7 linked regions of the Homo sapiens genome follow. The protein of the gene in region 6 purifies or fractionates together with the protein of the main gene of each other region. This does not show direct contact. Each region holds a gene or a part of one and is shown on either strand. Other genes may lie near its edges.

Region 1 (4,082 bases), on a different chromosome or scaffold from region 6:
TTTAGGGAGTCCGAGGAGCAGGAGCAAACACCCCAAGGTGAGCGCCATGTGATGTATTCAGAAGGCAATGGAAAAAGGCCAGTGTGGCTGTAATGTATTGAACAAAGGGAAGAGTGGCTGGACCTGCAGGGATAGGTCGTCTCAAGGAGTCTGGCTTTTACCCTGAGAGCAATGGGAAGCCATGGAGGAGTTGCAAGCAGGAGAGCACCTGATCATATTGACACACGTGAACTTTTAACCTGACCTCCGTGTAGAGACTGAGGGAAAGGAAGGCAAGACCAGAGGCAGGGGGACACCAGCAAGGAGGCTGGTCTTCGGGGCCAGGTCTGGACTAGGGTGGTGGCAGCAGGCACAGGGAGAAGTGGGTGGACTGGAGGGCCATGGAAACACCACATTGGCAGGCCTTGATGAAGGAGAAGCAGCTGGTCCATTCTTTTGAGCCTACCACCCTGGTAGGCCAACTCCTGGCCAAGTCCATGCCATTTCTTGGGCTGGCTTAATTGTCTCCCTGTTTGGGAGGCCGTGGGGTGAGGGGTCTTTCCTCCATGCTCTCTCCATCCTTAGCCCCAGCCCAGGGCCTTGCACACAATAAAGCACTCGGTGAGCACCAACGCGTGACACAGGTACATCAAACCGCATTGGCTCTGGGAGTCTGGCTGTATCTCGTCGCCCAGCCTGGGAGATAGCCCCGTTTGCTGTGCCTTGTGAGCCCCGGGTCCGTCCCAGGATGGCCTTCCACGATGAGCGGCTCCCTCACTCTTCTCCTCCTTTCCTGCCTGCAGGACTTCCTGGATGATCTCAGCCGCCAGCCCCCCGCCCCCCTCCCCGCCCCTGTCTGGGATCTCCATCTGTAAAATGGATCTAGGAACGGTAGTTCTCGACTGAATTAACCCGACAGCATCTGTGGAAGTCGTTGGCCCTGTGCCGGGGCCAGATCGCGCAACTAGGAGCGGGGGCCCTTCACGTGGCGGAGGCTTCCCGGCCTGGGGGCCACGGGCCCGGAGGAATTTGCCTGGAAGTTTTCCATCACGGCAGAGCCTTCTGGAGCTCGCCCCGTGCTCGACAAGGGGAGCCCCAGACTTGATTTCTCCAGCAGCCCCGCGGGGCGGGGCCGAGAAGGGGCGGGCGGGCGGAGGACGCTGGCGGGAGAATGTGCGGAATGTGCCAGGCGCCTCTACCTACCCCAGGAGGGGCAGAGGAAGGGGCCGGCCGAGGGGAGGGGCGAGGGGCGAGGCTCCGGGCGGCCGGAGAAAACCTGTTTGTTCTCCTGCGGGCGGAGCCCAGTCCGCGCCTCCTCGCCTCCCTGCGCGCTCCCCGCTGTGCACCGCGCCCCGCGCCCCGCGCCTGCCTCCCCGGCCCGGCCCGGCCCGGCCGGGCGCCGTCCACCCGAGGGAGCCCGCGCCCTGCGACTGCCCGACCCTCCACCCGCCCCACGAGCCGGGCACCGGTGCCAGGTAGGGCTGTCGAGTCGCCATTGGATGCGGCCCTGCTTGGAGGCAGTGGGGGGCACCCAGTCCGTGCCCAGCTGGGGACAAGTCAGGGCCTCAGTTTCCCCATCCATAACCCTTACCAGCTCCAAGCATCTCTCTTCGGGTTCCCCCCGGGAGTCAGTGGATTTCTGGTTTTCGCTGTGAGTGAAAAGACTGACAGGCAGAGGAGGCCAGCGTCCCCTACAGAGGCAAGTGTCCCCCTTGCCAGCCTGATCCCTCTGTCTTGCCCTTTAGGAAAGACACGGTTTAATTGTTAGTAAACGGCGAGGGGCCAGGATGCTCTGAGAGTTGACTGCAGGCCTTTAAGAATCAGGGAATCTCATATCCCTCCGTCCCCCTGTGCCCATTTTATAGATGAGGAAACTGAGACCCAGAGGCTGGCTCACCCAGAGGATCCCCTCAATCGCCCTGGGGCCTGTGAGGTGCATGTGCTGGGTACAGGGCAATCTTGGGGAGGGCCATGAGGATGGTGGCTGCTCACACTCAGACAGAAGGCGCCGAATCAGGTGTCACTGGGTGTTATCGACAGGATCGGCACTGCACCAGCTCTGTGGCTGGATTGTTTTGATGGGGGCAGAGGGAGCCAAGAGTCTGTCCTCTTTGGAAAGGCAGAGGGATACCTTGCCTTACAAAAAGGCCGAAAGCTCAGGTGCTCCTGCCTGATCTGCCACTTCTGAGCTGGGGACACCTGGGTACTCTGTCGGTTTAAGGGGGTGACACGTCAAGCTGCCTCCCACCCAGGGCTGCTGGGGACTCAGATAAAGTAGGTGGTGGGTGTGTCCCGGCTTTGGGACATCTGAGGCATGGTAGGAGTTGTGTTCTTGCTGAGCCGTCGGCACGAAGCCTTGGCATCATGGGAGGCCCCAAAGCTGTGAGCCCCGAGAGAGGGCCTCTCACACCCCATCCAGCAGTGCTTGAGGCTTCAGTACCTGGACTAAGTCCTGCCTTGGTCTCATGGCCCTTCAGACTTCTGGCTGTCGTACCTGGCTGGGGGCGGGAGGCAGGGGTGCACAGGTTGATAGGCCTGAACAGAGCTGCAGAGGTCCTGCCTTCCCAGGGCCTCCGCTCCTCATCTGAAAAACAAGGGGCAGCTCAGAGGCCAGCAAGTGGCCAAGACACAGATGCACAGATGAGGGGCCAGCCTTCTGGCAGGCCTTGGTGCCTCCGCTGTTCCCCTCATCGCTCCCAGGCCACTTCAGGATGGGAAGGAACAGATCCCTCTCACCTGCCCCTCCTTCCAGCAATTCCCAGCCCCTGGCTGGATGCTGTGCATTCAGCCGTGTGGAGCTGATGGAAGGCACTCAGTGCAGGGCCAGACACGCAGCAGGTGCTCAAGATCTGTTCATTTCCATCCTCTGGACACTCATGACTCAAGCAACAGAGGTGGCCCAGGACCACTTAGGATGTTGCAGCTCCGAGTAGCATGAAAACATTAGGGGTTCCTCAGTCCTGGAGCAGCGAGGCACCCCTGGCTGGGAAGATCAGGGAAGGCTTCCTGGAGGCGAAGGGCTTGGAAGCAGGAGGAGGAGCTCGGCAGCCACCAGGTCAAGGCCCGCACGTCCTTTGGAGCTGCTGGAGTCTAACCTCCCCGTTACTCCTGAAAGATCATAAACCACTTCTTGCTGAGCTCCTGCATATGGGGGCCCACAGAGAAATCAGCTCCATGCCTTGCCCTGAGGAGTGACAGAGAGGCCATCTGTCAGTAAGAAGTTGCCATCTGAATCCAAATGGCAGCAGTGCTTGTCCACCTCACTTCCTGCTCAGCTCAAGTCCAGACTCCAGAAAAAGCCTTTCCCACGTGAGGCCAGTGATGCCAGGGGCAGCCAGCGCCTCAGCTCAGCCTCCCTCAGCCTGACTTGTGCTCCTTGTCTTCCTGCCCAGTGTCCCCAAGGCCTCCTGAGATCTGGCAGGGCAGGGACTCTGGGTCCCTAGCACTGGGCCCAGGACCTGGCCACGATAGGCATCGGCACTTGTTCCCTGAACTGTCTTCAGTTGCATGCCAAGCAAACTCCCCCAATTCTGGCTCGGTGCATTCTGGAAGCCAGAAGCCTGCCTTCCTCCTTCCCTACTCAAGCTTCCACAGGTGACTGCCCCCTTTGGTGCGGGTTTTGCTTCAAGCCACAACTTATAAGGTGCCAGGTCACATGTAACACAAGCTTTCCTTCTGTTGCTGAGCCCTGAGGCTGCCCCCACTGCCAGTCCCTGGCGGCATGGGACAGGACCAGTGCCAGAGAGGAGAGCTGCTCTCCAGTGCGGCAACCCCTTGCAGTCCGGGCCTTTGGGCTCTCATGTTTAGGGTCAGTCCAGGGACTTTGCATTCGTTACCACTGTGCCCATAGTGAACCGGCTGATGCCAAGACAAGGGCAGTGCCATCAGGGGACCAGTCCCTGAGAGATGCTCAGGAGAGGTTGCCATCATTGCTTCCAAAGGCCGGGAAGAGGAGGAGGGGCTGAACTGTCCCACACCTGGTCAGGTGTGTGGCAGGTGAGGGTGGCACCTTCATAGCCTAGTGGTTAAGAGAATGGCTCAGAGGTCAGCCTGGGTTCAAACCCCAGCTCAGCCACCATCCAGTTGTGCAAAGTTCGGCCCTT
Region 2 (3,500 bases), on a different chromosome or scaffold from region 6:
TCCATCTTGCTTTTCACACTTAAATCATTTAGAAGTCATTCAATATCACCATATCTAGATCAATGTTGTTTTTGAAATTGTTGCATATTTCAGGTATAATTATGGTTTATATAATCAATTGCTTCCTGTTGGATATTTAAGATTTTCTTTTTTTGCTATTAACAAATAATGCTTATATCTATATTTTTGAACATTTGTACAAGTATAAATGCATGGTAAATTCCTAGAGGTAAAATTACTGAGTCAAGAGTTTTACATGTTTTGTGAATTTTGATAGATATTGTAAAGTTGTTCTTCAAAGAAGTTTCATTTATTGTTTTCCCACATTTAGCCAACATTAGGTATTATGAAACTTTTTTATATTGGCCAAAACTCACAGGCAAAAGAAAAAGAAAAAAGTCTCATTGTTTTAGCTTGGTATTTATTTGCTTATGGTTGAGGTTAAATGTAGTAAAAATGAAAAACCCAGTACTATAGAAGATAGAGTTGAAGAAATATTCCAGAAAGTACAATAAAAGGAGTAAAATAAAGAGGTTCAAATAGGAGAGTAAAGATAAGAATATTCACTGGTGGAATTATCCAGAAGGTCCAATATGAGAATGATACGAGAAAAAAAGAAAAAAAGTAGGATAGAAAATCATCAAAGACATAGTTCAAAGAAATTTTATATTGAAGGACAGAACTTTCTAGATTGAAAGGGCCTGTTGGCTGGGAAGGGTGGCTCATAGCTCTAATCCTTGCACTTTGGGAGGCTGAGACTGGGGGATCACTGGAGGCCAGGAGTTCCAGGCCAGCCTGGGTCACACAGCAAGACCTCATCTCTGCAACGAAGATAAAAGAAAGGGACTGCCAAGTGCCTAACGTATTGAAGGAAGGCAGACCCCATAATTGTGAAATTTCAGAATACACAATAAACCATTAACCCTAAACATTTCCAGAGAGGAAAAACTAGGTCACACACAAAGGATCTGGAATTAAAATTGTTTGGCTTCTCATTAGCAACACCGGATGCAGAGAGGGAGCAGTCACCTTCAAAGTTTGTGGTGAAAATTGTTACCAACTTAGATACCCAGCCAAACTATCAGTTAAGTGTAGGTAGAATAAAGACATTTTCAGACTTGTAAGGTCTCAAAAAGAGATTTTTCTGGGGAAGGTCTGGAAGAGGTAGGTGATTCAAAGGAACTGAGAAGGAGAATGACATGGGATCTAGTAATATGTATCTAATTCAAAACAGGCTGAAGAACGGCCTAGGATGATGGTAAGGAGAAATTCCAGAATGATACCTGTGTGTCACATATGGGGAACCGTCCAGTTTGGAGACAGTCAGGATGCTCCAGGAGAGAGATCACCAAGGGGATGAAAACTGCAGAACTCCTGATGTATTTGAACATATCGAGAGGACAGTTAGACTATTCCGGAGAAGATTGGGCCTGAATTAGTGTCAATTATATAGGAAACTAACCTTGGGAATAGCAACACAGTATTTCCAGGAAAAAAAAAATGTTTTAAATAGGGGAAAACTTATGGCTTAGCTGAGAATATTTTTATAGGCATAGTAAACTAAACATTGATTATTGTTCTATCCAAAAGGAAGACTTCACTATGTAGAAAGAATTGAGAATGACACTAGTTAAATATTTATGCATTACTGGGTTCAAGATGATTGAAAGATAATTAAATTCTCTTCTTTCATAGTTGGAGATTCATAGCCAAAAACTGTGAAGAATCACAAAGTAGCACTTATTAGAGTAAGTGACTATCAAACAAACGTTAGAAAGTGCTTCTGGCTGGGCATGGTGGCTCATGCCTGTAATCCTAACACGTTGGGAAGCCAAGATAGGAGGATTGCTTGAGCCCAGGCATTCGAGACCAGCCTGGGCAATATAGCGAGACCCTGCCTCAATAAAAAATTAGCCAGGCATGGAGATACATGCCTGTAGTCCCAGCTACTCAGGAGGCTGAGGCAGGAGGATCACTTGAGCCCAGGAGGTTGAGGCTGCAGTGAGCCGTGATAGCACCTCAGCACTCCAGCCTTTGAGACAAAGCAAGACCCTGACTCGAAAACAAAGAAAAATAAAGCATGCTCACAGTTAACCTTAATGAAAATAAAAACTAAATTTTGGGCTGTCAGATGACCTTGTATATACTGTGGAATTTTTTTTTTAATTATTGCTATTCTTTTTTTTTTTTTTTTTTTTTTTTGTGAGTCAGAGTTTTGCTCCCGTTGCTCAGTGTGGAGTGCAATGACACCATCTCGGCTCACTGCAACCTCCGTGTCCTGGGTTCAAGCGATTCTCCTGCGTCAGCCTCCTGAGTAGCTGGGATTATAGGCGCCTGCCATCATGCCCAGCTAATTTTTGTATTTTTAGTAGAGATGGGGTTTCGCCATGTTGGCCAGGCTGGTCACGAACTCCTGACCTGAGGTGATCCACCCGCCTCGGCCTCCCAAAGTGCTGGGATTATAGGCGTGAGCCACTGTGCCTGGCCTATTGGTATTCTTAACTCTTTTTCCTGAAAGTCATGTGTAAAGACAAGTACATATTAATTAAAGGATTCTAGTTAGTGAGATTTTGTTGAACTATTTTAATGAGTAAATTCTAAGAAAAAACATTGTTAAACTTTTTTTTCAGATTTTGTTATGGATGTCAGGGGGAATTGAAAGACCAACATGTAAGTTCTTTGGCTTTCTAAATATTAAGTAATGTACAAGAAATATTGAAATCAATGGTACTATAAGTTTTCAACAGGTTGTTAAAGACCAGGCTCATATCAGTTTATTTCTTGTAAAGATAATGACAATAGGTGAAGGTAAAATAGGAACAAAATAGTTTAAATAGTAGTTTTGTTATTCTGCATTCTAATTTTTGCTATAAAGTATTTTGTAATTCATCTTTTTAAAACTTTTTATTAAAAATTTTTTAATTTTTTTCCTCTTTTTTTAAATTCTTTGATTGTTTTGTCTACTTTGGTACACCCTTGTAAAACATGTAATTTGTCTTTAGCTTTCAAGCTAAACTGCATTTAGTCTGAAAGTATTTAAAATATTTTCTTCATATTATACTTTAAGCTGTGTGATAACACATTGAAATTGTTTAAGGTGGCCACAGATAATAGGTGATTCTTCCATTATGCCAATGAGAAAATACTTTTTTAAATTTTGAAGAGGGCCAACTTTAATAAATAAATTTGTATAGATGTAAATAATATGGATCACTGTCTAGCTTTAATTTTTAATTTAGTTACATGTTCATATTTAAAACTATATATATTATATAAAATAATAATTAGAAGTATTGCTCTTCCACTGTCACAATTTATAAAGTAATTTTATTAAGTTTTATATACCTCTTTGACATCAGTAGTTTACTCTTAACTGGAACCACTTTTTGAATCATTTGACAGTTTTTTGGTTTTATTTTCTGAGACAGACTCTTGCTCTGTCACCCAGGTTGTAGTGCAGTGATGCAATCTTGGCTCACTGCAACCTCTGCCTCCCAAGT
Region 3 (3,500 bases), on a different chromosome or scaffold from region 6:
ATGGTCAGCTGTGTCTGGAGTTATCAGAGAAGCCCTTCTAGGAGGTCCATGGGAGCAGGGGTTAGGGACGAATGGGAATTTGCCAGTGGAAGAAATCCCAGGGAGCAGCCTCAGGGGCAAAGCACAGAGACATTCAGAAGCACAGCATTTACAAGGATTCATTCAAGAGTCCCTTGGCTACGTTTTCAGGGTTGGGGAGAATGTGGGGCCGAAAAGGCTGTGGAGTTGGGCTGCATGGTGGAGGCTTCCTGGTGGCTGAGCTAAGGAGTGGGGGCTCAGCCCTGTGAGTGAGGCTTTTCAGCAGATTGCCTTGTGGGGCGGTGGAGGGGGTACCAGGAGACCGCCACCCATCACAGGGAGTCCCCATAGAATTCCAGCTGACCAGAGGATCTTCCTGCTCGTGGCAGGACCATGACAAGCTTTGAAAGCCATGAGGTAGACGATGGGAGCCCACAAAGGAGGTGGTGACAAACAATTGCTTTATCAGAGAAACATTTTAGAAAGCCGCACAGGCTGCTGCAGGCGCCTGGGAGGGAAGAGTTGTGACCTGGGCCCCACCTCACTGGGCAGACGACGCTTAGTGTAAGGTGATATTCTCCAGTGACTCTGAGTAATGTTCCCAAAAATCTCATTCTCCTATTGCCTTTTCAGACCATTTCAGAGATGTTTTCTGTTTCTTTGTGATTGATCTTGGCTGTGGCTTTTGACACTGTGCGTCTCACTTTCTCTGCCCCCTGACCTCTGGTTAGGTAGTTAATGATCTTTAAACAAACACTTGAGTATTATGGCTCTCCAGGAAAGGTCCTGGGCTCATGGGCCATTAGCAACACACTCTCCCTTTATCCAGGGAGAAAATGAGTGTTCGTACACCCTGACTCGGTAGACAGGGATGCTTGCAACCTAAGTGTCAAAATTCTCTTTAGTTTAACTATTTTTGATGGCAGGTCTTCTGAAATATGTTACATATTTCTCTGCTTCAAATCCATGAACAGTTTCCTCTCATCTCAGAGACAGTGGATCATAGGTAGGAATGTTTGTTCATTTCAGGAACTTTTATTGGAGACTTTTCTATGTCTGTTCCTGATTTACAAACTGTGAATGCAGAAATCTGCCCAGTATAGTAGTCAGTGATATTTTAGAAACAGAGATAAGATCAGGTTACTCCTTTGCCTAAACTCCTCCAGTGACTTCCGGGCCTTGCACTCTACTGTGGGGCCCGAGCCTTGACCTCTGTGTTAGTCCGTTTTCACGCTGCTGATAAAGACATACCCAAGACTGGGTAATTTATTTTTTAAAAAAAAGAGGTTTAATGGACTCACAGTTCTGCGTGGCTGAGGAGGCTTCACAATCATGGTGGAAGGCGAAAGGCACGTCTTACATGGCACCAGGCAAGAGAGAGAATGAGAGCCAAGTTAAAGGGGTTTCCCCTTATAAAACAATCAGATCTAGTGAGACTCATTCACTACCAGTATGGGGGAAAGCACCCCTACAATTCAATTATCTCCCACCAGGTCCCTCCCACAACACATGGGAATTAAGGAAGCTACAATTCAAGATGAGATTTGGATGGGGACACAGCCAAACCATATCAGCCTCCCTCCCTGCTGTCTCCCTCCCCACCCTTGCTGTAGCCCTCCTGCCTCGGTGTATTCCCAGACTCACCAAGCTACTGCCCTCTTAGGGCTTGCACTTATCAGTTGCCCCATTTAGAGCTGTCTTTCTGTGGGTCTTCACACAGCTGTCTGCTTCTTATGCTAAGGTCTTAGCTCAAATTCACTTCTTCGAGACCTTTACCCCACCCAGGCCTTCTCTATCACATCACCTGGCCTTGTTTTCTTTATAGCATATGTTGTCTAATATAGTCATATAATATTAATGTAGATTAATATTATATAATTATATTAATATATATTTGCATGCATGTAATTTATATATTAATTTTATATTGATATGAATTGAATTAATATATATAATTTTTCCTATATAGGTAATTTTGTTGTTGCTGTTGTTTCAAGATATTAAGCTCTTTGGAAACAGAGGTCACTGTATTTCTTCCCCTAGAACAGTGCCTGGCACACAATAGGCACTCTGGGAATATGTGTTGAATGAATGAAGAGAGATCCTGCCCTAGGCTACCCACAAGCCAGCAGGCAGCAGATACACAATAGACAGTGACCATGCAGCAGGCTGTGGGATTCAGAGGGGCTGGGTTACCACTAAGGAGTCAGGGTCAAGTTCTGCCACTGGGAGTTGGGACAGGCTTTCCAGAGCAGTGGTGTTTGTCCCGGGCTTTAGAGGGCAAATGGGCACAGCTTGGCCAGCTGAGCAGCTGGGGAGGCCATTCTTGGGGGAGGAGGCAGGCAAACCTGGACAGAGGGCTGGAAAATGCTAGCATGATTGATGGAAGGGAGGAACTTGGAGGGACTGGAGCCTGGATTGGAGCAGGGGTGAAGGGAACTAAGGTAGTCAGGGATTTGGCTGCTATGACCCCTGCCTTTCCCCCAGAAGAACAGTGAGACTTGGAGAGTGGGGCCCTGGCCCTGCTTTGCTGGCGGCCCTCGGCCTTGTGCTTTCAGTGTGGTACCTGCTCTGGTCCAGAAGAGTGTGCCTGGGCCCCAGACCCCCCTTGGCTGGTCCTCACGGTGCCTGCAGGTGGTGGTAAGCACAGGATTCTCTAGCTGCAGCTCCCCTCTCCTCCCCACAGCCCCGAGGCTTGTTGGTTTCATGTGCTCTCTTGCTTACTCCCCATCAGGTGGTGAAGAAGGTGAAGTCCATGCAGATGTTCCACATGCCCATCACTTCAGCCATGCAAGGAGACCGGCTGGGCATCTGCGTCACCCAGTTTGACCCTAAGCTGCTGGAGCGCGGGTTGGTGTGTGCCCCCGAGTCCCTGCACACTGTCCATGCGGCCCTCATCTCTGTGGAAAAGATACCGTATTTCCGGGGGCCCCTGCAAACCAAGGCCAAGTTCCACATTACAGTGGGCCATGAAACAGTCATGGGCCGGTTGATGTTCTTCAGTCCTGCTCCAGATAACTTTGACCAGGAGCCTATACTGGACTCTTTCAACTTCTCTCAAGAATACCTTTTCCAGGAGCAGTACCTGTCCAAGGATTTGACACCAGCAGTGACAGACAATGATGAGGCCGACAAGAAGGCCGGCCAGGCCACAGAGGGCCATTGTCCTCGGCAGCAGTGGGCCCTGGTGGAGTTTGAGAAGCCCGTCACCTGCCCTCGGCTGTGCCTGGTGATTGGCTCCAGGCTAGATGCGGACATTCACACCAACACGTGCCGGCTAGCCTTCCATGGCATCCTGCTCCACGGGCTAGAGGACAGGAACTACGCCGACAGCTTCCTGCCCAGGCTGAAGGTGTACAAGCTGAAGCACAAGCATGGCCTTGTGGAGCGGGTGAGCATGCCCTTGCCTGGCCCCACACCCCTTCCCTTCTTGCTCGGGCAGCTGGGATCCATGGCCTGACATCTGTGATGAGAGCCAGAAA
Region 4 (3,516 bases), on a different chromosome or scaffold from region 6:
CTCCTGAGTAGCTGGGATTACAGGTGTGTGCCACTGCGCCTGGCTAATTTTTGTGTTTTTAGTAGAGACAGGGTTTCACCATGTCGGCCAGGCTGGTCTTGAACTCCTCCTGACCTCAAGTGATCCACCCGCCTTGGCGTCCCAAAGTGCTGGGATTCCAGGTGTGAGCCACTGTGCCTTGCCTTGTTATCAACTTTTTTTGAATTGCATAAGTAACAAGTGAATAAATACATTTATCTTGGGAAAAAGTAAAGTGTTGCCCATTTGGCCACATCCCGGTCTGCTTCCCCACTTCCTTCATCCCTGAAATCCAGACACTTCCCCGTGATTTGCTTTGTAGTTTGGGCCCCACCTGGTAGGGTAATGGTGCACTGGGGGATAGTAGGCAGGACAGAGAGGTGAGGAACTGCCCAGGTCAGGGGAAGCCCTCAACTCTCATCTGTATCTGGAGGGAGGTGAGGCAGAGCAGGAGGGCACTCATGGGCCCACTGAATGCCAGGGGTTGGAGGAAGCCCACAGAGCCCAGAGTTGTTAGTGCTTCTGCCATTTGTCCCCAAGGGGCAGGACCCTCCTAGTCAGATTGCTCAGAGGCCCACTATGCTGGCAGTAGCTTGGAGGAGCTGGGAGGTGCCTGTGCCCTGGTCTTGGGAGCATACACCTGAGGTGGGATGGAGGAAAAGCCACCTGTGGCTCTGGCTAGGCCGGGACCCAGAGGACATCCTCAGAGCCCAGGAGCCCTGGGATTATGTGAGAAGCCAGTCCTCACTTTGTATGTATCCAGGCAGCTCTCTGGTCTTGTAGTTATTGTCAGCATCCATGCTTCCTGACTGACTGTGGCTGGCTGCCTCCTGCTGTCCCATTCTTGGCCTGTGGGGAATGCTTCATCCTGGGAAACCCAGGCCCCTCCTCCAGAGCTGCCTTTGCAGGGTCTTCACCTCTGGCTGGTTGCGGGCCACACAGAGGTGGGAGCAAGGAAGCCTGGGGTCCCGTCTCTCCCTGGGGGCCACGGTAGGCAGTGTCCCTGCAGAGTGGCAGCGCGTTTTCCACAGGCCTTCTCTGTTTAATTGCACCCTCTAGTGGAGGAGAAGGTGAAGGAGCAGCTGGAGGCCGCCAAGCCCGAGCCCGTCATCGAGGAGGTGGTGAGTGCCTGGACCACCCTGGCATCCTCGCTGCTTCTGTGTGTCCTGTTTCTCTTCGCCACTTGCTCTCCCTCTGCCCCCCATTCCTTCTCGTCACTTCTTTATTCCCTTCCCACCAGCCCCTTTGCTCTCGTCCCTCTCCTTCCTCCTCCTCTTTCTCCCATTTCCCTCCTTCTCGAGCCTGCCCTCCCCCTTGTCCTGGGGTGGCCCCTCCACCCTGATGTGTGTCTCCTCCCTTCCCAGGACCTGGCCAACCTCGCTCCTCGGAAGCCTGACTGGTGAGTGTTGCCCGTGCGTGGCGGGTGCAGGCTGACTCGGGGACTCTTGGTGCCAGCATGGGCCTGGGGCTTGGCCCTTCCTGCCGTCACAGTGCAGAGACTGGCAGTACAGACATAGAGTTACACGAGATAGCTACTGTTGGAAACCAGTGCTGAGGAGGACATAAGTGGTGGGATGAGAGGGGAGTGATGGAGTGGGGCTCAGGCGCGGGGAGCAGCAGGCCCCTCATGAAGGCCCTCCTGAGAGGTTGAGAGCCCATCTGCTCCAGAGCTCCCATTTGAGCAAGGCCAACCGCTGTCTTTGGGGGCCAGGAGTGGAGGGAAGGGCAGACACAGTTTTCTGTTCCTGTTCTACCACCATAGCTTGTTCCCTCTGGCCCTGGTTTCCTCCTCTGTGAAATGGAGGTCGTCATCCTTCTTGCTAGGCTGAGAGAGAGTGGGAGAGAGGGTGCTGTGGGCCGGGAGGCTTGTGTCTGTCTTCACCTTGAGCCGGAGGTAGAGCTATATCCCTCTCGCCTGATTCTTGGTCGAGTTAACACCAGCTGTTTTAATTTGATGAAACAAAAGCATGGGGCATATGTCCTGGGAAACCCAGAGCCAGAGAGAATGGGCTGAGTGCTTGTGCACTTCTGGGTGCCCACAGTGGAGGGGCTGGGCCGGTGGCTGGAGGAGGAGCAGGGCCCACAGTGGGCAGGAGCAAGTCACTCCCTGATGGTGACCAGAGGACCAGAGCAAGAGAGGGTCTCTGAGAAACCATCCACCTTTGCCTTAGCTCAGTCCCTTGTGTTGGGTGGGTTTGTGATGCTAGTCCCCCTGCCTCAGTGGGACAGGGAATGATGGTTTATGCTGGGTTTCGGAGGGTACAGAAGGGGAATGTCCTGGCCTCTTCCCCAGGGCAGCCCCCTCCAGCAACCGAGCATGACTCCTAATGCCAGAGGGCTGCAAGAGGGGAGGGGACCCAATGCCACATCAGGCCAGCCTTCACCTTCCTGCTTCTCCCTGCCTCCCTGCTCCAGGGACCTCAAGAGAGATGTGGCCAAGAAGCTGGAGAAACTAAAAAAGCGGACTCAGAGGGCCATTGCCGAGCTGATCCGTAAGTGCAGTGCCTGGGAAGGTGGGGTCCTGCCCACTGGGTGGTGGCCCAAGCACCGGGCCCCTCCCCACCCCTTCTGTCTGCCATCCATCCCAGGTGAAAGGCTGAAAGGCCAGGAAGACAGCCTAGCCTCTGCAGTGGATGCTGCCACCGAACAAAAGACCTGTGACTCCGACTGAGGCATGCCCTGCCCCACCACTCGCCCATCAGGCCTGTCCTGCAGAGGATGGTCTTGGGCAGGGATGGGGGCTAGGCTTGCCATCACCTCCAGTTTGGCTTCTGAGCAGAGACTCCCTGCCCATCAAGTCTGAAACCCCCATGGATGAGGTCAGCTCCTTGTCTGCTGGGTGGCCCCTGCCATTCTGAATGGAGGCAGAACCAGCAACAACTCTGGGCGTGCCTGTGTCTGCACATGTGGATGTACATATGTCTGTATATATGTATATATTTTGAACTTTCTAAAAAAAAATCTGGAAATAGAAACAAGTAAACCCCTGTGTGTGGCAGAAATGTGTCAGATATTTCCTAGGTCTGAGGGTGCAGTGGATTTGGGCTCCACAGGATGGAGACAGGGTGACTGCAGAGCTGGTACTTAATATGTATGAATAACCCCTGTGTTGGGCTGGGCATGTTGAGGCCGGAGGGGTGGGAAACACTCAGGGCTGCCTTCTGCGGCCAAGTCCTGGCCCAGTCCATGGTCAGTGCTGGTCATCTCAAGATCCTTGGGTGATAGAGACAGGGTCTGAGAAAGTCCTTTTAAGACCTCCCCCAGACCTAGGCCTTGTAGTAGTCTATGGAGTAGCTGGAGAGGCTCCCACCCTGGTCCTCTGGGGATCCTCAGTGTGAGAGAGACTGGGCCTTGGCAAGCCCCAACTCAGGGCCACTCCAGATTTGATGCCGCTGGCACTGCTTTCCCCACTCTCCCCAGCCCCAGGCGGCCTCTCTCCCTACTCCACCAGTCAGAGCTAGACTGTGGCTCCCCTAGGACAGAGACCCTGCATGGGAG
Region 5 (3,500 bases), on a different chromosome or scaffold from region 6:
ACTTTTTTTTTTTTTTTTTTTTTTTGAGACTGAGTTCCGCTCTTGTTGTCCAGGCTGTAGTGCAATGGCACGATCTCGGCTCACTGCAACATCCGCCTCCTGGGTTCAAGCGAGTCTCCTGCCTCAGCCTCCAGAGTATCTGGGATTATAGGCATATGCCACCACATCCAGCTAGTTTCTGTATTTTTAGTAGAGACGGGATTTTACCATGTTGGCCAGGCTGGTCTCAAACTCCTGGCCTCAGGTGATTCGCCCACCTCAGCCTCCCAAAGTACTGTGATTACAGGCATGAGCCACAGCGCCAGGCCTTACCTTGTTTTTAAATGACAATCTGAGGTCCAGTTGGACCTCCGGTGATAACTGGCAGGTACCATAGTTTTGTGTGTGTGCGTGTGTGTGTGTGTTTCTTAATCAGCGTCTCAGTTTCAATTCTGACTTGGCTTAATCATATTTGAACTTAAAGGTTAATTTTGGTTAACTTAAAAATCTGATGCTTTCAAGAGACAGCTTTGTTGGACCATTTAAAGATCCAGTTGTTTTTTGCCACCCCCCTTTGTTTTATATCTTGTTACTAAAGATGCCAAACTTTAATGTAGCTCCTTTTTATGTATTTTTTAGAATTATGTTTTCTGATTTTTTTGATAATGTTCCATGCTCAAAAAATAAAACACTTGTATAACAGTTGGTTTTTATTATTATGCTCATGAATGAGGGCTTGATGTGGGCTGATCACACTGACTAGTAGTTGGGAAGGAATAAACCTGTATCCGAGTACGAAGTGGGGAACAGGGTTTTACAGGACAAAGGAATAAAAGGCTTGAGTCTCCAAAAAGAACTTAAAGTTATTCTTGGTAGGGTACAGAGTAGAAAGGGTTGTTAAGAGGGTAGAAGGAATCAGAATTGCCTGTAGCCTTCGCTTCTGTTTTGGACTAACTGATAAAAGATAGACTTACTTGCATAGGAATGTAAATTAGATAAGTGAGATAATTTCAGCTCTTTTTTAACTTACTAGCATTGCTTTTATGTGCTAAGTCATGCTTTGATTTAAATATTAAGAAAGTGTCCTTGCTTAAATCAATACTTGATTGAATCGATACAAAAATCTGTGATAAGATAAACCCAGGCGGCCAGATATGATATCCTAAGAACAATGATAGATTCAATGAGGTTATTAGATGTTGATCTTTCATTTATGAGGGCTTTAGCAAACACTGCAGAATATTCAGGTTTTGAGAGATTCATACTTACAAGCATTTAATTTGTTCTTCACTGTCACCCTACAAGGAGGTATAGCCTCTTGTTCTAGTGTGGATTTTTTTTCACAAGCAAACACATTCCTCCCTACTTGTACTTCTGCCTCAACTGAATCATTTTAAGAATTTAGGCCGGACACAGTGGTTCACATCTGTAATCACAGCACTTTGAGAGGCTGAGGCGGGCAGATCACCCGAGGTCAGGAGTTCAAGACCAGCCTGGCCAACATGGTGAAACCCCGTCTCTACTAAAAATACAAATTAGCTGGGGTGTGGTGGCACGCACCTGTAATCCCAGTTACTCCGGAAGCTGAGGTAGGAGAATCGCTTGAACCTGGGAGATGGAGGTTGCAGTGAGCTGATATTGCACCATTGCACTTCAGCCTGGGTGACAGAGTGATACTCTGTCTCAAAAAAAAAAAAAAAGAATTTAGATATTACTTATATTGTAGATGAATGTGATAGGGTCTTTTATTATTATACTTTAAGTTCTAGGGTACATGTGCACAATGTGCAGGTTTGTTACATATGTATACATGTGCCATGTTGGTGTGCTGCACCCATTAACTCGTTGTTTACATTAGGTAATGTGATAGGGCCATTTTTATAACAGGTTAATCAGACTTTGGTTTTCATTTTGGCACATTTAATGTTGAAATGGATTTAAGCAGGGGTAAAATTGGCTTCATCTTCCTTTATTATCATTATAAGGTCACTAGGACATAGTTACATTAAGTTCATTAGAACATAGTTATACCACTAGGACATACTTATACCAGTGTATTTTTTACCCCTTAGCATCAAAATCTGTTACCCAAATTTTACTCTGTAAATAAGAGAAAATATTTTTACAAATCTTAAGAATTCTTTATTCACTTACATGTTGTCTGAATCAACTTCTAATTTGTGTTTTTAAAAATGGTAGTATGGCTGGGCACGGTGGCTCACGCTTGTAATCCCAGCACATTGGCAGGCCCAGGCTGGCAGATCACTTGAGGCCAGGAGTTTGAGACCAGCCTGGCCAACATGGTGAAACCCCGTCTCTACTAAAAATACAAAAATTAGCCGGGCGTGGTGGTGGGCGCCTGTAGTCCCAGCTACTTGGGAGGCTGAGGCAGGAGAATTGCTCGAACCCGGGAGGTGGAGGTTACAGTGAGCTGAGATCATGCCACTTCACTCCCGCCTGGACAACAGAGCGAGAATACGTCCCCCCGCTCCCCTGCCCCTCCACCCCCCAAAAAATGCTGGTAGTTCATAGAATTTAATTGGAAGAGATCTTAGATGATCTGATCCAGTCCCTTTATTTATGGCTAATTTCTCTGGTCTCAGTGTCCTAAAGTCACTCAACTAGTTTGTCGCAAAGCTAGAGATTAGAGCCTAAGTCAGCTACATACTTGTTACCTTTTACTAGTACATGCTGTCTCTCTTGGTCTAGAAAGCAGAATGGAAAGGCTTTCTGTAGGAAGTGTTGCCTTTGGGAATCAGAAATAAGGTCATTTCATTTCTAACTCATTTAGAAGTTGTCTTGAACAGTCAACTTCTAGTTTTGAACTATAAATTTATTGTAAAATTATTTCTTGGAGTGTGCTTTTGGTCTGGATTTTAAATCTATAATGTCTTCTTCTAGTTGGATTGGATGCTGCTGGCAAGACAACCATTCTGTATAAACTGAAGTTAGGGGAGATAGTCACCACCATTCCTACCATTGGTAAGAAAGTTTACAGATGACTTTATATCATGATATGTTGTAAAGTGAAATATATACAGTCTAGTTTTGAGATTGTCTTTTTGTTAAGCATGTTGATTATCTTAGAAGTACTTTTAAAACAGGCCGGGTGTGGTGGCTCATGCCTGTAATCCCAGCACTTTGGGAGGCCGAGGCGGGTGGATTGCTTGAGCCCAGGAGTTCAAGACCAGCCTGCATAACATAATGAGGCCTTGTCTCTGTTGATGTTTAGGCTTAAATATATTTTTTAAAAATAAAAAGAAGTACTTTAAAAACACTATTCTAAGAAAATTCCACAATAAAAGGTTTTATTTTCTTAATGACGCTGCACAGCGGTCATTTTTGTTTTTCTTTGTAGGTTTTAATGTGGAAACAGTAGAATATAAGAACATTTGTTTCACAGTATGGGATGTTGGTGGTCAAGATAGAATTAGGCCTCTCTGGAAGCATTACTTCCAGAATACCCAGGTAAGGGATACTGTATGTTTTTATAACTTTTCTTTGTGGGTTTCATGCTCTAA
Region 6 (3,500 bases):
CCAGGAGTTCAATACCAGCTTGAGCAACATGGTGAAACCTCATCTCTATAAAAATGCAAAAATTAGCTGGATGTGGTGGTGCATGCCTATAGTTCCAGCTACTCAGGAGGCCGAGGTGGGAGGATCACTTGAGCCTGGGAGGTTGAGGCTGAGGCTGCAGTGAGCTATGATTTTGCCACTGCACTCCAGCCTGAGCAACAGAGCAGAGTCTGTCTCAAAAAAATAAAAAATAGGCCAGGCGCAGTGGCTCATGCCTGTAATCCTAGCACTTTGGGAGGCCAAGGCAGGCGGATCACCTGAGGTTGGGAGTTCAAGACGAGCCTGACCAACATGGAGAAGCCCCATCTTTACTAAAAATACAAAAAATTAGCCAGGCATGGTGGTGCATGCCTGTAATCCTAGCTGCTCGGGAGGCTGAGGCAGGAGAATCACTTGAACCCAGGAGGCAGAGGTTGCAGTAAGTCGAGATCACACTGTTGCACTCCAGCCTGGGCAACAAGAGCAAAACTCCGTCTCAAAAAAATAAAATAAAATAAATAATAAAAAATAATTTTTAAAAATAAATAAAAAATAAAAATATAGGAGGCTGGCCGGGCACGGTGGCTCACGCCTGTAATCCCAGCACTTTGGGAGGCCGAAGTGGGCAGATCACCTGAGGCCAGGAGTTCGAGACCAACCTGAGCAACATGGAGAAACCCCATCGCTACTAAAAATACAAAATTAGCTGGGTGTGGTGGTGCATGCCTATAATCCCAGCTACTTGGGAGGCTGAGGCAGGAGAATCATTTGAACCCAGGAGGCGGAGGTTGCGGTGAGCCAAGATCACACCATTGCACTCCAGCCTGGGCAAGAAGAGCAAAACTCCATCTCAAAAAAAAAAAAAAAAAAAAAAAAAAAAAAAAATATATATATATATATATATGTATGTGGATGTGTGGGTGTATATATGTATATCTATATATGTATATATGTATGTATATATGTAGATCTATGTATATGTGTGTGTATGTATATATACACACACACATATATACATGGGGCCCAGTGAAATCCGAATTTCAGATAAACAATGAAAATTTAGTATAAGTACGTTCCATGCAATATTTGCAATATACTAATACTTAAAAAAATGCACTCATTGTTTATCTGAAATTTAAATTTAGCTGGGTGTCCTTCTATTCATCGACCCTATACGTAGTAGCGCTGTGACCTTGGGCAGGAGACGTTTCCTCTCCTAGCCTTGGTTTTTTTTAATCCATGGAACGAATATAATGATATCCACCTCATAAGGTGGCTGTGATGATGCAGGAAAGCCGTTAGCTCATGTCAAGTCCCTAGGAGACGTTTGGAAAGTAGGAGTCATTGTCATCACCTTATTCTCACCTGGCCTCTTTCCGGATGTTTCTCCAACAGGTCTTGCAGAAACAGTCCATTGTGACCTTCAGCCTGTGGGCCCCGAGAGGGGCGAGGTGACATATACCACTAGCCAGGTCTCGAAGGGCTGCGTGGCTCAGGCCCCCAATGCCATCCTTGAAGTCCATGTCCTCTTCCTGGAGTTCCCAACGGTGAGTGTCCCATGGCAGGGTCGGGTGGGGGCTCAGAGGAAGCTCCAAGGCAGATGGGGTGAGGGGTGCCTTCCTTGTGGCTGTCCCTGGGGCAGTGGCTGAGTCCTCGTTAGGCCCCCTGCCAAGAGAGTGATGTGGGCATCTCACAGGGCCCATAAGAGGTGGCATTTCTAGGGGCAGGGTCTGGATCAGGGCAGTCTTTTGGGTGCCACCAGAAGACTCAGGTGGGAAGAGCTGAGTAGAGAAGAGCCAGATGGGTGGGGGGGACCAGGTGAGTGTTGCTTATGCACCTCCAATGATGGAGACCTCACAGAATCTCAGAAGAATGCAGCTCCTCTCTAGGGAGCTTGGACTTTGAAAAGTGCTTCTTGGGCCAGCCACAGTGGCTCACGCCTGTAATTCCAGCACTTTAGGAGGCCGAGGCGGGTAGATCACGAGGTCAGGAGATCGAGACCATTCTGGCCAACATGGTGAAACCCCATCTCTACTAAAAATACAAAAATTAGTTGGGCGTGGTGGTGAGCGCCTGTAATCCCAGCTACTTGGGAGGCTGAGGCAGGAGAATTGCTTGAACCAGTGAGTTGGAGGTTGCAGTGAGCTTGAGATTGTGCCACTGCACTCTGGCCTGGTGACAGAGTGAGACTCTGTCTCAAAAAAATAAAAAATAAAAAAATAAAAATAAAATAAAAATACAAAAATTAGCTAGGCATAGTGGCGCATGCCTGTAATCCCAGCTGTACTTGGGAGGCTGAGGCAGGAGAATCGCTTGAACCCAGGAGGTGGAGGTTGCAGTGAGCCAACATTGCACCACTGCACTCCAGCCTGGGTGACAGAGTGAGACCCTGTCTCAAAAAAAAAAAAAAAAAAAGAAAAGAAAAAGAGAAGTGCTTTTCAGTTGAGCCCAGATCTTTCTCCCTGGAATGTCCCCTGCTGAATATCTGTGACCCTCAGAGATCCAAAGGCTGCTGCCGGCCTGGAGACGATTCTCCCCAGGAGACCCCCACTCCCAGCCCACCATCAGTTTGTCTGATACGTCTGTCCTGAATAATAACAACACCTTTGTTAAGCGCTATGTGCTAGAGACTGTGCTAGGGCCGACTCTATGCCAGGAATTAAGCATCTCACATGTATTAAGCCTCCCAAGGCTCATCTGCCAGGGTCTGTTATTATCCCCACTTCTTGGAGAAGGAAACTGAGGCTGGCTGAGAGCGATGGAGTGACGTGCCCAGGGCCAGAGTTCACACCAGATCCCTGGGGATGCCAGAGCCAGCCTGCCACTTGGTTCCCCACGTGGATCTCAGTGTTCAGGTGGCTTCTGGCCTGTTGGACTGGAGATTACACCTGGTTGATGTGGCCTTTGGTCCCGATACTGACTTCGCCGTGTCAGCTCCGGGTAAACTTATGGCCAATCTGCCCCCAAAACTGTTAAGTTGCCTTGCGTTTGTGCAGTGATAAGAAAGTGCTCAGACCACCAATATCGGGGGACCCTGCTCCCCACCGCCCTGCCCTCTACGAGGACTGTGGGCTTTGATAATTTCCAAATCATAGATAGTGCCAAACACACTTTGTGTGGTTTCCATAGGCATTGTCATTTTTTTTTTTCAAATTTGGTAATGATATTCAAAATACGACTGCCTCTGTTAGTTCGCATTGTTTGTTTTAATGTTCAGGTCCCTGTGCCTCCTCTGGGTGACTGGGATCCCCCAACCCTAATTGCTCAATACTGGGCCAGGGTGAGAGGAGGGCCCCTAGGCAGGTGTCTAGGTCTATGGGAGATAGGTGTGTAGATAGCCAGCCAGGATCCAGGGGACTGGTGCATTCTCACGGGGCACAGGGCCAGGGCACTCCAGCTGCTACGGGATTAGGCATGGCTTGTTACGGCCACACCATCCTGAACACATCCGACCTCATCTGATCTTGGAAGCTAAGGAGACT
Region 7 (3,500 bases), on a different chromosome or scaffold from region 6:
CTCTTCAAGACCTTGCTTTCCATTCTTTTAGAAGTGTATCAGAAGTGGGATTGCTGGATCACGTGGTAGTTCTCTTGTTGATTTTTTGAGGAACCTCCATACTGTTTCCATAGCAGCTGCACAACTTTACAATCCCATTTTACAGTGCATATTTGTCCCATTTTACAGCTGAGGAAACGAAGCACAAGTGGAAGAGCAGAGGCTCCTGGACTCTGTGATTCCGGGCAGACCCCTTCCCCAGCCTACCCCCTGGGCTAATGAGAGGCAGTGGGTATTTAGTCGGGGATGCAGAAGCCGCAGACCGACCTCCCCTTCCTCCAGGGAGACTACAGGCAAAAGCATGTAAACCCCTTTCCATTGCCCCCCAACCACAGCCGCCCTGGAGGGAGGGCCAGCGTGGACACCAAGGAGGCTGAGGGCGCCCCCCAGGTGGAAGCCGGCAAAAGGCTGGAGGAGCTTCGTCGTCGTCGCGGGGAGACCGAGAGCGAAGAGTTCGAGAAGCTCAAACAGAAGCAGCAGGAGGCGGCTTTGGAGCTGGAGGAACTCAAGAAAAAGAGGGAGGAGAGAAGGAAGGTCCTGGAGGAGGAAGAGCAGAGGAGGAAGCAGGAGGAAGCCGATCGAAAACTCAGAGAGGAGGTAAGGCGGGCGCTAGCCCACTGAGAACGTTGCCCGGGAAAATTCCCTAGTGCCGTGCGGCTGTTCTTTTGAGCATGGGCTCTCAAAAATATTTTTTTAAGAATAATAAACTTACCATGTGCTAGGTACTGTTTTATAACTTGTAGATGTATTAATTTGTCCACTGCTTCTAAGAACTCGCTGACCTAGGTACTAATCCCCATTTTACAGATGAGAAAACTGAGGCACAGAGAGGTTTTGTTTTTGTTTTTGTTTTTGTTTGTAACTTTCCCAAGGTCTCCCTTGAGTCTGCCTGACATGCAGGAGGAGCCCCATCATTAAAACCCTTTACTGCCTCTCAAAAAGGAAAAGTTAGAAAGCTGAAAAGGATGAAAGGTCTGCAAATTAGTTACCAGAATGAAGTTATGGTTTTCTAATAGTTGGAGAGTTTTTATAGAGAAGATTTTTTTAAATCTTTTTTTTTTTTTAATGAGCAAGTAAGTACATTAGAATATAAAGAGGCAGGGACAGTATCTGCGTTGTTCATTACTGTATACCCAGGACCCCATACCGTGCCTGACATGCAGGAAGAGCCCCATCATTATAAACAGATGGATTTGTTTCATCTTTTAAGACAGAGCTAAAAACAGCAGATAGAGTTACAAGGAGGAACATTTTGGCTCAGCATATGAAATAATGTTTAACCAACTACAACTTACAGTACTACAGTTTACAAAGTGCATTCTTTCATTTCATCCTGAGGTACATCGTTCTCATTTTATGGGCAAAGAAACCAGGAATCAAATAGTTTGAGTGACTTATTTGAAGATTCTTGACTAATAAATGGTAGAATCAGTAAGGAGACCCCGCTTTTCCAACTCAGAGCCCAGAGCTTTTGAGATAGCGATCTCCCATCATTCAAAATATGAAGAAAAAAAAAGACTTTCAATGGCATTTTGACAAGGATCCTATGCAAAATTTTCCTGAACTGTATGGAAAATTTGGATACATTATTTTGAGGTCTCTTTTAACTCCAACTTTCAATGAGCCAATGACCTTTGGTTGGGAAGTATGGGAAGTAATCAGGATGATAGAGTTTGGGGGTTAAACACACCCCAGGCTTTTTTTTTTTTATTGTTTTTTTAGACATAGTCTTGCTCTGTCACCCAGGCTGGAGTGCAGGAATGCAGTGGTGCAATCTCGGAACACACCCAGTCTTCTATCCTAACTCTGTCACTAACAAGCTGGGGCCTTGGGAAAACTGGACTACTCTGTGTCTTCTTTTCCTTATCTGTGAAATAATATCTACTTTGCAGGATTCTTCCAATAATTTAATAGATCATTGTGCTCCCAGTGCCTGGCACATTCTAGGCACTCAAAAATTAGTAGGTATCATTATTGCCATCATTGTTATTATGATTATTATTCAGAGGAGGAGAGTATCAGGAAAGGCTGAAGAGAAATCACGAAGTCTTAGAACTGGATTGGACCTAGGAGATTATTTGGGCTAAACTACCAAACACAGGATCCTTCTGTGACATCCTCTGACAGATGAACATCTAGTCTCTGCTTGAGAACATGCAGTGATAATGATCTCACAGCTTAAGAACTACCAAAGACTGCATTAAATCTCTCAGAAAATCAAGTTGTGCAACTTGATCAGAGCCCTGATAGAGAAGACAGAGTATTCTAGACTAGGAATGAAGACACAGAGGGGTTAATGAGACAGTCTGTAAACATTTGCAATTGCACTACCATGGTTCAACGTCTAGAGCATTTCAGGTTTGTCAAACCATCTAAAATTATATATTCACTTGAAGCGGGGAGCAACCATAAAATCACCTCTTGTACCATCTGGCAAATATAGTACCACAGATTTAGATAGCTTTTCACATAAGTTATTCATTTGTCTTCACAACTCTCCTAGGATGTAGGTAGAAGGAATATTCATATCCCTTTTACATATACAGAAGTGTGAGGTCATTGTTAATGACCCACAGGATGGTGGTGATTATGTATCATCCTATGGGAAATCATCATAATGAGTGTTAGTCTAAGCCAGGGGTGTCCAATCTTTTGGCTTCCCTGGGTCACATTGGAAGAAGAATTGCCTTGGGCCACACATAAAATACACTAACACTAATGATCGCTGATGAGCCAAAAAAAAAAAAAATCACAAAAAGGTCTCATAATGTTTTAAGAAAGTTTACGAATTTGTGTTAGGCTACATTCAAAGCCATCCTGGGCATGATGTGGCCCCTGGGCCATGGGTTGGACAAGTTTGGTGTAAGCATTTTACATGTGCTATCTCACTGAGCCCTCACGAAAGCCCTAAAAAATGAGTACTATTGTTATCCCTGTTTTACAGATGAAGAAACTGAGCCACAGAGCAGATAAATAACATGGCCAAGGTCAGGCAGTTGGAAAGTAGCAGCACCAGAATGCAAATGCAGGCAGCTCGACTCCAGCTCTCAGGCTAAACCTCTGGTGACCACCTAGAAGGGGAGTGTCCAGCCTGCGGCCTGAGTCTGCTGCCTCTCCAACTGTGCTCTCTCTCCTACAGCACTCTTCCCTTTGGCTGTGAAGCTGGTACTGATGCCTCGTTATTTGTTCTTTCTCTCTTAGGAAGAGAAGAGGAGGCTAAAGGAAGAGATTGAAAGGCGAAGAGCAGAAGCTGCTGAGAAACGCCAGAAGATGCCAGAAGATGGCTTGTCAGATGACAAGAAACCATTCAAGTGTTTCACTCCTAAAGGTTCATCTCTCAAGGTATTTTTTTCCCCAGAAAACTTCTATTAGAATATGATAGAGACTGGATTTTAGCCCCTTGTTTAGTTATTGATTATACAGGGCCTTTGTTCATTTATCTTTTTGCTATCCTTCCAAGT

The links.
Region 1: the proteins of ENG (region 6) and ZNF185 purify together in Homo sapiens (affinity purification with mass spectrometry; one large-scale study listed by BioGRID and IntAct). This does not show direct contact.
Region 2: the proteins of ENG (region 6) and GTF2H2 purify together in Homo sapiens (affinity purification with mass spectrometry; one large-scale study listed by BioGRID and IntAct). This does not show direct contact.
Region 3: the proteins of ENG (region 6) and EEFSEC purify together in Homo sapiens (affinity purification with mass spectrometry; one large-scale study listed by BioGRID and IntAct). This does not show direct contact.
Region 4: the proteins of ENG (region 6) and CCDC12 purify together in Homo sapiens (affinity purification with mass spectrometry; one large-scale study listed by BioGRID and IntAct). This does not show direct contact.
Region 5: the proteins of ENG (region 6) and ARF4 purify together in Homo sapiens (affinity purification with mass spectrometry; one large-scale study listed by BioGRID and IntAct). This does not show direct contact.
Region 7: the proteins of ENG (region 6) and CALD1 purify together in Homo sapiens (affinity purification with mass spectrometry; one large-scale study listed by BioGRID and IntAct). This does not show direct contact.

The regions. Positions count from the first base shown.
Region 1 is NC_000023.11:152,896,785-152,900,866, forward strand, and holds the start of ZNF185 (zinc finger protein 185), read left to right. Parts: upstream 1-1,282; 5' UTR 1,283-1,454; intron 1,455-4,082. UniProt on the Homo sapiens protein: May be involved in the regulation of cellular proliferation and/or differentiation.
Region 2 is NC_000005.10:71,036,677-71,040,176, reverse strand, and holds part of GTF2H2 (general transcription factor IIH subunit 2), read left to right. Parts: intron 1-1,695; coding exon of another isoform or gene 1,696-1,747; exon of another isoform or gene 1,748-1,748; intron 1,749-2,630; coding exon 2,631-2,670; intron 2,671-3,500. UniProt on the Homo sapiens protein: Component of the general transcription and DNA repair factor IIH (TFIIH) core complex, which is involved in general and transcription-coupled nucleotide excision repair (NER) of damaged DNA and, when complexed to CAK, in RNA transcription by RNA polymerase II.
Region 3 is NC_000003.12:128,338,481-128,341,980, forward strand, and holds part of EEFSEC (selenocysteine-specific elongation factor), read left to right. Parts: intron 1-2,505; coding exon of another isoform or gene 2,506-2,658; intron 2,659-2,752; coding exon 2,753-3,409; intron 3,410-3,500. UniProt on the Homo sapiens protein: Translation factor required for the incorporation of the rare amino acid selenocysteine encoded by UGA codons. Replaces the eRF1-eRF3-GTP ternary complex for the insertion of selenocysteine directed by the UGA codon.
Region 4 is NC_000003.12:46,921,230-46,924,745, reverse strand, and holds the end of CCDC12 (coiled-coil domain-containing protein 12), read left to right. Parts: intron 1-1,077; coding exon 1,078-1,139; intron 1,140-1,382; coding exon 1,383-1,417; intron 1,418-2,433; coding exon 2,434-2,510; intron 2,511-2,606; coding exon 2,607-2,689; 3' UTR 2,690-3,016; downstream 3,017-3,516.
Region 5 is NC_000003.12:57,583,845-57,587,344, reverse strand, and holds part of ARF4 (ADP-ribosylation factor 4), read left to right. Parts: intron 1-2,880; coding exon 2,881-2,961; intron 2,962-3,337; coding exon 3,338-3,447; intron 3,448-3,500.
Region 6 is NC_000009.12:127,841,159-127,844,658, reverse strand, and holds part of ENG (endoglin isoform 1 precursor), read left to right. Parts: intron 1-1,413; coding exon 1,414-1,565; intron 1,566-3,500. UniProt on the Homo sapiens protein: Vascular endothelium glycoprotein that plays an important role in the regulation of angiogenesis. Required for normal structure and integrity of adult vasculature. Regulates the migration of vascular endothelial cells.
Region 7 is NC_000007.14:134,947,134-134,950,633, forward strand, and holds part of CALD1 (caldesmon), read left to right. Parts: intron 1-374; coding exon 375-636; intron 637-3,240; coding exon 3,241-3,381; intron 3,382-3,500. UniProt on the Homo sapiens protein: Actin- and myosin-binding protein implicated in the regulation of actomyosin interactions in smooth muscle and nonmuscle cells (could act as a bridge between myosin and actin filaments).